Linked DNA regions of Homo sapiens: region 2 is linked to region 1. The links come from fine-mapping of genetic effects on gene expression. A gene starts in region 1. The other region holds a variant in brackets. All regions are shown on one strand. Distances are between the middles of the regions.

What was found. PIP is the estimated chance that this variant, and not a neighbour inherited with it, causes the effect.
Region 2: its variant is the best candidate, but not a certain one, in a credible set for the expression of PEX5 in skeletal muscle (GTEx, PIP 0.82).

The regions. Positions count from the first base shown.
Region 1 is chr12:7,186,681-7,192,052 of GRCh38, reverse strand. PEX5 (peroxisomal biogenesis factor 5) reads right to left here and starts at 2,367. Exons shown (of 16, transcript NM_001351132.2): 1 at 2,303-2,367; 2 at 1,529-1,691; 3 at 1,130-1,165; 4 at 695-827; 5 at 353-484. The coding sequence starts at 1,675. RefSeq lists enhancers at 1,541-1,620, 1,078-1,793, 1,651-1,800, 1,794-2,510, 2,511-2,570 and 2 more and silencers at 1,991-2,400, 3,421-3,470.
Region 2 is chr12:7,209,139-7,214,510 of GRCh38, reverse strand. It overlaps PEX5 (peroxisomal biogenesis factor 5), which reads right to left. Exons shown (of 16, transcript NM_001351132.2): 14 at 5,341-5,372; 15 at 4,671-4,828; 16 at 3,052-4,489. The coding sequence ends at 4,288. Among named protein-coding and RNA genes, the nearest start is that of PEX5, 22 kb to the right of the region's middle. The variant G/A (reference allele first, on the strand shown) is at 2,257.

The DNA of each region.
Region 1 (5,372 bases):
TAACTTAAGGCCAGAATCCCAGGTGCTGTAGTGAATACTCTCTTCCTCGGCAACACTGCCATCCATCCAATCTGTAGATCCTCTCCACTAAACCACAGTGATAAAGTAAAAAGGCCAACCAAACTCTTCGTTCTCTCTATCCAAAATCTCTTATCCAGTACAAACCCAGTCCTCTCTTTAATATACATTACATTCCGTTATCACCTAAGGGAAATTGAGTTCAGTACCCTACCCCTCTAGAAATGAGTCATGAGACCAGAAAAATCGTAATCACACTATAACGTGAACAGGGGAAGGGTATAGAATTCTGTCCCATAGAAGCCAATATAGATTTTCCCATAACAAGTTTCACCTGTAACTTCAGAGATGAATTCTTGGGACCAGTCAGTCTCATTATAATCCTGAGTTACATCCACAGCATCTCCAGCTGCAAGAAACTCCTGGGCCCAGTTCTCAGACAAGGCCAAGTCTGCCACACCAGGGGCTTAAAAGAGAGAGAGAGAAAACTAAGAAAGAATACATACATACCATTCCATCATGCCTAAAGAACCCTGAATCCACGTGAAAACACTCTGTTACTTTTGTCTCCTTCTGCATCTCAGGTCCCCAATGCCAGCAGCATCCAATGGAACCCCCTTCCTTGGCCCTGGCTACATGGAAAACGATCTCCCCTCCCACTAGACTCTGGACTCACCTCTCTGGGGAGCCTGGCGGAAGTTTGACTGCTCAATCTGCTGCATCTCAGCCAGGAGGTCATCCATCTTGAAGGTCTGAGGGGCACGGGACACAAGGGGTGCATTCTGGTCCTGCAGGAATTCAGCCACCAACTGCCAGAAGGGAAATGATGAAATGAACCCATAGGCTTGGGAGGCCCCAGCAAGAGGCAGGACCCACTGGAGGGGGATCCCAATGTTAGATACAAGGAAAGGAAAACACAGAAACTGGAGACACATAAAGAGAAACTGTCTTTCCATAGATTTAGAAGGACGAAAAAATACATTTAAAAACAAGCAGGCATTCTCATTCGGTCAGGAAAGCCCAAAAATTGAAATACGGGTGAACTAAGTTTAAAGGTAAAAACACAGTGGGCAAGAGAAAAATGGGACAGAAAAGAGACTGGTCTATTTACCTCATCTTCAGAAGCTACTCCCAAAGGCTTGGAGGCCTAAGAGAGAAAGACAGAGATGTACAATGACGCAGTTCCTCTAAAATCAGGGGTTGATGAAGCCCATAGGCATCTGAGCCTCGGCTTCTTCATCTATAAAATGGTTGCATTTATTTAAAGGTGCACAGGGTTTTCTAGTGTTTATAAACGCTCAGTAAGTGGTAACTACTATGATTTGCAACACAATAGAGAAAGCAGTTATACCAAGATGTGCAAACAGCCCCTCCACCTCAGACCACCACCACCTGGGCTTTCCACCTCAAGAACACTCACTGCCTCAGAGGCTGCACCTGGGCTTTCCACCTCAAGAACACTCACTGCCTCAGAGGCTGCACCTGGGCTTTCCACCTCAAGAACACTCACTGCCTCAGAGGCCGGGGCTCCGGGGGGCCAGGGGCCAGGCCTCAATCCCTCCTGCCGAAGGGCCTTGTCCTGGGTGAAGTGCCCGGCGAGCTTCATGAGCGGGTTGGCACCCCCGCATTCGGCCTCCACCAGCTCCCGCATTGCCATGGTGACCGCCAGCTCTCTGATGGACACAGGAGGTTTGGAACTGAGGTACCCAAGCCAGACCCTTCTCACATCCACAACTCTGCCCGTATCTGAGGAAGGCACACAGGCGTCTGCCCCACACTGGCCGCCCTCCACCCCAGTGCTTTTGCTGCGACCCCCACCTCTGCCAGGAGTTCGAGGGAGGTCGGTACTCTCTCCTGCCGCCCCCCTCAAAGGCCACCGCTTCCAGCCTGCGCCTCTGCAGAGGCCTCCGCGACTACGGTCCCATGGGCTGGGGGCCAGCAGCTGCCTCCACAAAGGGGCCTGGACCCCGGGGGACCACGGGGACGCTTCAACAACCAGGCTGGACGGCGACACTGCCCGAAGAAGGGACAGTGGGAAAACAGCCCGACCATACCTAGCCCCGCGCAGCCCCAGCACGCGGTGAGCACGGCAGAGGAGCATTCCCTCCCCTTAAGTCACCGGAGCCCTTCCCCCGGCTCGGCCCGGTCCCTCCCGCGCTCCCCACCGCCCATCTCCCCGGCCCTGCTGCCGCTCCAGCCCCGCCCCTGGGACCCGCGAGGCCACCGCAAGGGTGGGGAGGGCCCAGGGACGCGGCCCCGGGCCCCCTCGGGGTCAGGCGCTCACCGCGGAGCGCCGCGCCGCACGACCCGCCGGGGCACCAGGTGCTGGCTTGGGGGAGGGGAGAAGAGGGGGCGGGGAGCCAGGGGGCGGGGCTCAGGCTTAAAGGGGCCGTGACCGCCCCGCAGCGGCCCAGGCCCAGCGGAAGCTGTCTGAAAAGGCGGGGCCTTAAGACTGCGACGCAGCCTGACGGGAAGAGCCGTGAGTCTTAAAGGGGAAGAGCACCTTAGAGAGCGGGTCTTGGAGAGTCGCCTTTAGGAGCGCTCGAAAAGGCCACGGGCCCTAGGATTTGTTTGACGGAAAGCTCAAAGAAGAGTGGAGCTAAGAAGGGCTTCCCAGGCTCTGGGGGAAAGCCGAAGACGCGAGATCCTAGGCTCAGTCGATCCTGCCTCTTCCCTTGGGCGCATTGTGACCTAAGGGGATTCAGTGCCCTTTCTGAGCCTCAGTTTTCCCCTCTAAAATGGGGCTGGCTAATGTTCCCAAGCCCAAGAAAGAGAAAAGCCCTAACACCAGGGGCTGGGGAGTCCAGTCCGAAGCCTTCTTCAGCCTCCTAGGCCTGCCCCGCTTCCAAATAACCCCTAGCGGGGTAGCGTCACTGTCTCCATGGAGACAGGGGCCCGCCCCCGCCTTAATCCCTCTCCACCTCTGCATAATGGGGAAAATAGCACTGCATGATGACAAATTCCGGAGACCAAAATAGGGTCCAACGCATCCTGAGACCTCGAGCTGGTAACGTACAGGGAAGGTGAACAGTGAGTCAGCCCTTCCTTCCGCTAAGTCAACATAGTGGCCTTATTCCCATCACTCCAGGCTGGGAAAGGACAAACATACAAGAAATGCTTTTAATCACGGAATAAGACTAAGCCTCAAGCCCCCTCATCTGCCAAAGAGTGTGCTCTGCTGTCAAACCTCAAAGTCATTGAGAAACAAACCCTGATAATCTCACCCAGCTTCAAGACCAAGGGAGTCCTAGTGTCATGGAGAAGAGCAAGGAGGGGCCCAGGGCTGCCGGTAAATGACCAAGGGCAATAATGCCAGACGAACAGAAGTACCATCCCAGCCCAGGGTGCATGAGCGGAGGCAGGCAGGCAGCAGGTGGCGCCATGGGCCGGGCTTGTTTCCTGGCTGTTCTGCAGATTTCAGAGGTGGAGGCCTCAGGGGGCCACAGGGAATGTCTGTGTAAACTCATCCCTGGGAAGACAGAGAAGCTGCTCTGACACCTCAGGGGAACAGAATGGCAGGGGACAGACCATAAGACTGTGCAACATTTCTCCTTTTCCTTGCCTTTTCGCCCTCTTTCAGAGGCCCCACTTCTACACCCCGTTTTCTTCCGGAGCACACAAATCCCAGCCCTTGGGCGTCCCCTGTTCTCAGGCTGCCATCGTGAGGAAAATACCTGATAAACTAAACCACACAAGGATGAAGAGATGCCCTCCAGAAGGTGCATACTTTTAAAAAGAGGACCCCCTAGAGAGAGCAATGTTTAAAGGAACCCATCTGATACAGTAGAATTTCAGAACCTCAAGGCAACCAGAGTTTCCCAGTACCACTTAAACATCACAACACACATAACCTTCTGCTCTGCTAGGAGTTTATCAACTGATTAGCCGTAACTCACTTTGTGTGCAGATCTTGGAAGAATGCTAATAATAATAACTGATGTTTACTAAAATCCAGGTGTTGTGTAAAACACTTTATGTATCTCAATGTTTTTAATCTTCTTAATACCCCTATTAAATAGATATTAGTAGACCCACTTTACAGATAAGACTTGTGCAAAATCAGATGGCTAGGAAGTCAAAATTTAATCCAGGCATAACTCTAGGCACCTACTTCCCAGTCTTAGAGAAGACTTACTGATAAACCATGGAGATCTTTGATCTCCTAGGCCATAGAATCATTCACAGAACTTGGTCCACAGTCCCAGCCAGAGGTGCTGGGAAAGGGCTAATAGAGTGACTTTGGTGTTTAATATTTAATTTACTGAAGCTCTAGATTTGAAACCCTAGATTTTGTTAATCCAGGTTCAACTTTAAATTCTTGTTCTATTCATAAAAGTAGTAATTTTTATAAAATAAAAATAATTTTTACTTATTCTTTAATGTTTGACGAATTCAAGTTCAATAGATGTTTAGACACACATTGCATTGACTGTGTGCCAGGCATTGTTTCAAGCACTTTTCAACTATTGATTTATTTAATCCTCCTAATAGTTATTAATAATAACTATTATCCCCCATTTTACAAAAGAGGAAACTGAGGCACAGAGAAGTTGAGTGACTTGCACAAGGTCATACTAATAAATAGCAGAGCTGGGATTTGAACCCAGACCACGGTCACCAAACTGTAAAGGGCTCAATGGTCAATATTTTTGGCTTTGTAGTCCATGCAGTCTCTGTCACAGTGACTCAACCCTGCTGTTGGAGCACAAAAGCAGACATAGGCCACACCTAAACAAATGAGCATGGCTGTATTCCAGTAATGCTTTTTATGGGGACTGAAATGTGAATTTTATATAATTTTCATGTTACAAAATATTCTTCTTCTTTTGATGTTTTTCCAACTATTTAAAAATGTCAAATACTTATTTGTTTTGAGACAGTCTTGTTCTGTCACCCAGGCCGGCATGCAGTGGCGCAATCTCGGCTCACTACAACCTCTACCTCCTAGGTTCAAGTGATTCTCCTGCCTCAGCCTCCCGAGTAGCTGGGACTACAGGCACATGCCACCATGCCCAGCTAATTTTCGTATTTTTAGTAGAGATGGGGTTTCACCATGTTGGTCAGGCTGGTCTCAAACACCTGACTTCAGATGATCCACCCCCCTTGGCCTCCTGAAGTGCTGGGATTACAGATGTGACCCACCGTGCCCAGCCAAAAAACGTCAAATACTTCTTAGCTTGCAGACTATGGAAAAACAGGGACCAGGCCATAGTTTGTGGATCTTTGACCTACACAGTCTTATTCCAGAGTCCATGCTCTTAAACACTGTGCTGTACTTCTGCTTTTTAGAAATAAAAGACAAATTTCCTAATATTTTTAACTATGTGACATTTAATATTCATATTTTAAATACC
Region 2 (5,372 bases), 22 kb before region 1:
CAATTCCCACCTATGAGTGAGAACATGCAGTGTTTGGTTTTTTGTTCTTGTGATAGTTTACTGAGAATGATTTCCAATTTCATCCATGTCCCTACAAAGGACATGAACTCATCATTTTTTACGGCTGCATAGTATTCCATGGTGTATATGTGCCACATTTTCTTAATCCAGTCTATCGTTGTTGGACATTTGGGTTGGTTCCAAGTCTTTGCTATTGTGAATAGTGCCGCAATAAACATACGTGTGCGTCTTTATAGCAGCATGATTTGTAGTCCTTTGGGAATATACCCAGTAATGGGATGGCTGGGTCAAATGGTATTTCTAGTTCTAGATCCCTGAGGAATCACCACACTGACTTCCACAATGGTTGAACTAGTTTACAGTCCCACCAACAGTGTAAAAGTGTTCCTATTTCTCCACATCCTGTCCAGCACCTGTTGTTTCCTGACTTTTTAATGACTGCCATTCTAACTGGTGTGAGATGGTATCTCATTGTGGTTTTGATTTGCATTTCTCTGATGGCCAGTGATGGTGAGCATTTTTTCATGTGTTTTTTGGCTGCATAAATGTCTTCTTTTGAAAAGTGTCTGTTCATGTCCTTCGCCCACTTTTTGATGGGGTTGTTTTTTTCTTGTAAATTTGTTTGAGTTCATTGTAGATTCTGGATATTAGCCCTTTGTCAGATGAGTAGGTTGCGAAAATTTTCTCCCATTTTGTAGGTTGCCTGTTCACTCTGTTGGTAGTTTCTTTTGCTGTGCAGAAGCTCTTTAGTTTAATTAGATCCCATTTGTCAATTTTGTCTTTTGTTGCCATTGCTTTTGGTGTTTTAGACATGAAGTCCTTGCCCATGCCTATGTCCTGAATGGTAATGCCTAGGTTTTCTTCTAGGGTTTTTATGGTTTTAGGTCTAACATGTAAGTCTTTAATCCATCTTGAATTGATTTTTGTATAAGGTGTAAGGAAGGGATCCAGTTTCAGCTTTCTACATATGGCTAGCCAGTTTTCCCTGCACCATTTATTAAATAGGGAATCCTTTCCCCATTGCTTTTGTCAGGTTTGTCAAAGATCAGATAGTTGTAGATATGCGGTGTTATTTCTGAGGGCTCTGTTCTGTTCCATTGATCTATATCTCTGTTTTGGTACCAGTACCATGCTGTTTTGGTTACTGTAGCCTTGTAGTATAGTTTGAAGAAGTCAGGTAGTGTGATGCCTCCAGCTTTGTTCTTTTGGCTTAGGATTGACTTGGTGATGTGGGCTCTTTTTTGGTTCCATATGAACTTTAAAGTAGTTTTTTCCAATTCTGTGAAGAAAGTCATTGGTAGCTTGATGGGGATGGCATTGAATCTGTAAATTACCTTGGGCAGTATGGCCATTTTCACAATATTGATTCTTCCTACCCATGAGCATGGAATGTTCTTCCATTTGTTTGTATCCTCTTTTATTTCCTTGAGCACTGGTTTGTAGTTCTCCTTGAAGAGGTCCTTCACATCCCTTGTAAGTTGGATTCCTAGGTATTTTATAGCTTAATTCTTAAGTCATTTACACAGCCAGACTTTGTCATGTCCTGCACCTATGTAGTGTGGAAACTGCTCCTCCACCTGCCCAGCCCACTTCCCGCCTGGGTCTTTGCACCACCAACCTGCAGAGCCCAAGACACCAGCTGCCTCGTGATCCCCCAGGTGGTGACAGGTGCCACAACAGCTTCCTGTTTTCCTCCCCCAGGTGTTTAATTTTCTCCTCTAGAAAAGTATCAAACATGCACCAAGAAAATTTGAGAATTACAGAGAAGTATGATCTCCCCACTTTTAGCACATTGGGATAGTTCCCTATTGTCTTTTCAATGCATTTTTTTCTTAAGACAATCTGTAAATAATTGACCAACCATTTTTCTCACTATATTGTTAGCATCTATTGTCACTGGAAATTATTCCATAAATGATTAAATAGCAATAGCTATATTTCACTGTCTGGACAATTTACTTACCCAGTTGTCTTTTAGACCTGTTTTTTTTGTTTTTTGGGTTTTTTTTTTTTTTTTTTTTTTTTCTGGCAGCTTTTGAGCTCACCGGAAAAAAAAAATTAGACTTTGGCCAGGTATGGTGCTCCTCCCTGTGATCCCAGAACTTTGGGAGGCTGAGGCAGGATTCCTTGAGGCCAGGAGTTCAAGACCAGCCTGGTCAACATAGTGAGATCTAGTCTCTATTTGAAAAACTTTTTAAATAAATTTAAAAGTTAGACTTTTTTTTGGCTGGGCAC[G/A]GTGGCTCACGTCTGTAATCCCAGCACTTTGGGAGGCCGAGGTGGGTGGATTGCCTGAGGTCGGGCGTTCGAGACCAGCCTGACCAACATGATGAAACCCTGTCTCTAATAAAAATACAAAATTAGCTGGGCGTGGTGGCACATGCCTGTAATCCCATCTACTTAGGAAGCTGAGGCAGGAGAATCGCTTGAACCCAGGAGGCGGAGGCTGCAGTGAGCTGAGATCACGCCATTGCACTCCAGCCTGGGCAAAAAGAGTGAAACACTGCCTTAAAAAAAAAAAAACAAAAAAAAAAAAATTTTTTTTCCAAGTCTAATGTGCCCACAAACATCTATCTCCAAGTATAAATATTTGTGTATATTTTTAAATTTTTCCTCAGGATAAATACCCATCTTGATATGGCACTTGATACAGTTCCCGATAAAGGCAGGCAGAGCCAGATGAAAAGCTTTAGAAACCCTAAGCACTGAAAAACTATCAAAATCCTTCCATGTAATTCATAATACAAAACAACCTAACAATTATATGGCACTGCACACTTTCCTTTGTAGTAGTAACAGGAGTAAAAATTCATGATTATCGACATCTCTTTCTCCTGCTAGCCCAGAGGCCCAGAGAACAGGGACCCTGTCTCCTGTGCTCTATCATTTTTAGAGGGATGAGCAGGTAACCAATATACCAGTGAGAATTTGAAAGGCAGAAACTGTTGAATCCCAGTCCTCCAAACGCCAACTCACCTTCTGCCATCCCAGCTTCATGACCAGCAGAACTCATACCCACATCAGTTCCATTTATTCTTCGTACAAATATTTTACAGTTTTATTTTTAAATCATTTACACATATTCATACAAAGAAAAATAAATTTCAGGATGGAATCCTGGGACCATGGTAGTTTAAAAAAAAAATCTCTCTGATCATTAGCTACTAAAGACAAGGCAAGAGGCTTAGCAGTCATTTCTGGGGGTTAGTGTATCTCCCCATGCAGGGGACAACTGAGAAGAATCCAAGCTGCTCCCTCATCTTCCTTCGATCTAGATGGGGGAAGGGGATTTTCCAATGCTCTCCCCTAGAAACATTTCAAGAAGTACAGCAAAGGCTTATGGTAACACTGAACCTATTTGCTAGAAATCTGGCAAGATTGCACTTTCTGAACCAATTTTCTATAACAGTTGGCTCAATTCCCATTCACAGGTGCTTCTAAGAGGATGAGGGATTGCCGCACTCACCATACCCCCTTCCCACTTGCTCTGTCCTCCCACCAACGTTCCTGAATAGAGCCCTTGATCTCTTCTGATCTAGTCCCTCCCCGCTCCCACCCAGCCTCATTTCACAAGCAAACCTTCCTCCTATGCCACACACCCAGACACTCTGTAGCAATTGGCCCTGGCAGCTCCTGAGGACCGCTGCAGTGATGACACAGGACTATTGCATCAGCATCGTGCTCACAGGGAATCAGAGCTCAGCCAGGAGAGGTCCAAGAATGACAGAACCATGAGCACTCCTACCAAAACTCAGCTCTGCTCAGCCAAATCAACAATTCAACCCAACAGGCCAACTCCTAACACATCCCATCCAGACAGACATTAGAGGCGCACAGCAGATGAACCTCCTACTTACACTGCCCAAGGAAGCTGGACTATCAATTCCCAGTAAAAGTGGGGGAAAGGACAGACATTACAGATGTGGTAGACCCTATCAGAAATGGCAGCTGATGATAACAGTTACCCTAAATCGTGGGGTCCTACCCAAAAAGCAGCACCAAGAAAGGGCATGATGAGCAGAGAGATCTGTAGCTGGATGTACAGCCCTTGAATTACCAAGGGACTCAGAGATGACACAGCTCATTTTCCTACAATTATGTAGGAACTAGAACACAGACTACCCACCCCTACGTTGAGGCAGCTCCTGAAAGGCCGTACCGCTTATGGTCATCAGCCCGCCCCCTTGGTAGGCCCATTTGGGGAGAGGGAATCACATCCAAAGCGGGGATCCCTCCAGGTGGACACTCACAGGGCAGCCCGTCCCACTGTCACTGGGGCAGGCCAAACATAGTTAGGAGGGTGGACAGATCCCGCGCGTCGGCTGCCCCATAGGCATCGCTCTGGCCTAACATAGACAATGCCAAACGCAGGGTGCTCCAGATGTTCTCCGACATGGCACCTCCTTCACCCCGGGGGCCCCGGCTTTTCCTCTGCATGTTCAGGGCCTCCAGAAAGTGCTCCACAGCCTCCCTGTAAGGAAGAAGAGGAATGAGAGCTGTTAAGCTGAACAACAATGGAAGGAAGCAGGTCAGCTAGCAGTGGGAGGGAGAAAGCTAGGGCTGGTTAGTCAAACAGGATCTAAGAATAAGGAGCTAGGGCCAAAGGCAGGGAGAAAAAGCTCATTCATTCATTTCTCAATAGATACTCTCACCGGTGAGCCCCGAGGTTGATGCAGCTGATGCCCAGGTTATAGCGGGACCGGATATAGCCAGGCTGGAGCTCGAGGGCCCGGCGGTACGCAGCTACTGCTTCTTCACTCTGGTTTCCATTGGCCAGGGTGGCGCCTAGCTTATTCCACAGCAAATAGTCCTGGGATAGGGATGCAGAACGGATGGGAACAGCTTGACTCAGCTCAAACTCTGCACATTACTCCACCGACTCAGCTCAAACTCTGCACATTACTCCAGCTGTTTCACTACTCTGTTAGCTAACATGTTTCGTCCCATTCCATTCTCAACAGTTCGGTGTGTGGCTACAATGTAGCCCCTCTCACCCTATGCAGACTCTCTTATGTCCAGATGACCCTACACTCCCAGCCTTCTTTTCCCAGTCCTCCCAAGGCAGTCAGTACATGGAACACTGGAATGAAATACCCCAAGACTCCAAAAGTCTGAACAAATTATTCTTTTTTGTGGGGGTGGGCAGGGTCTTGCTATGTTGCCCAGGCTGGATTTGAACTCCCAGGCTCAAGTGATCCTCCCACTTCAGCCTCCCAAGTAGCTGGGACTACAGGCATGCACCATCAAACCCAGCTTCCCAACAAATGGCTCTTCAATAAGGTACACAGTCATGTCCCATTTCCATTCCTCCCCTGGGCTCACATTGGGACGAACGCTGAGGGCAGCTGTGAAGC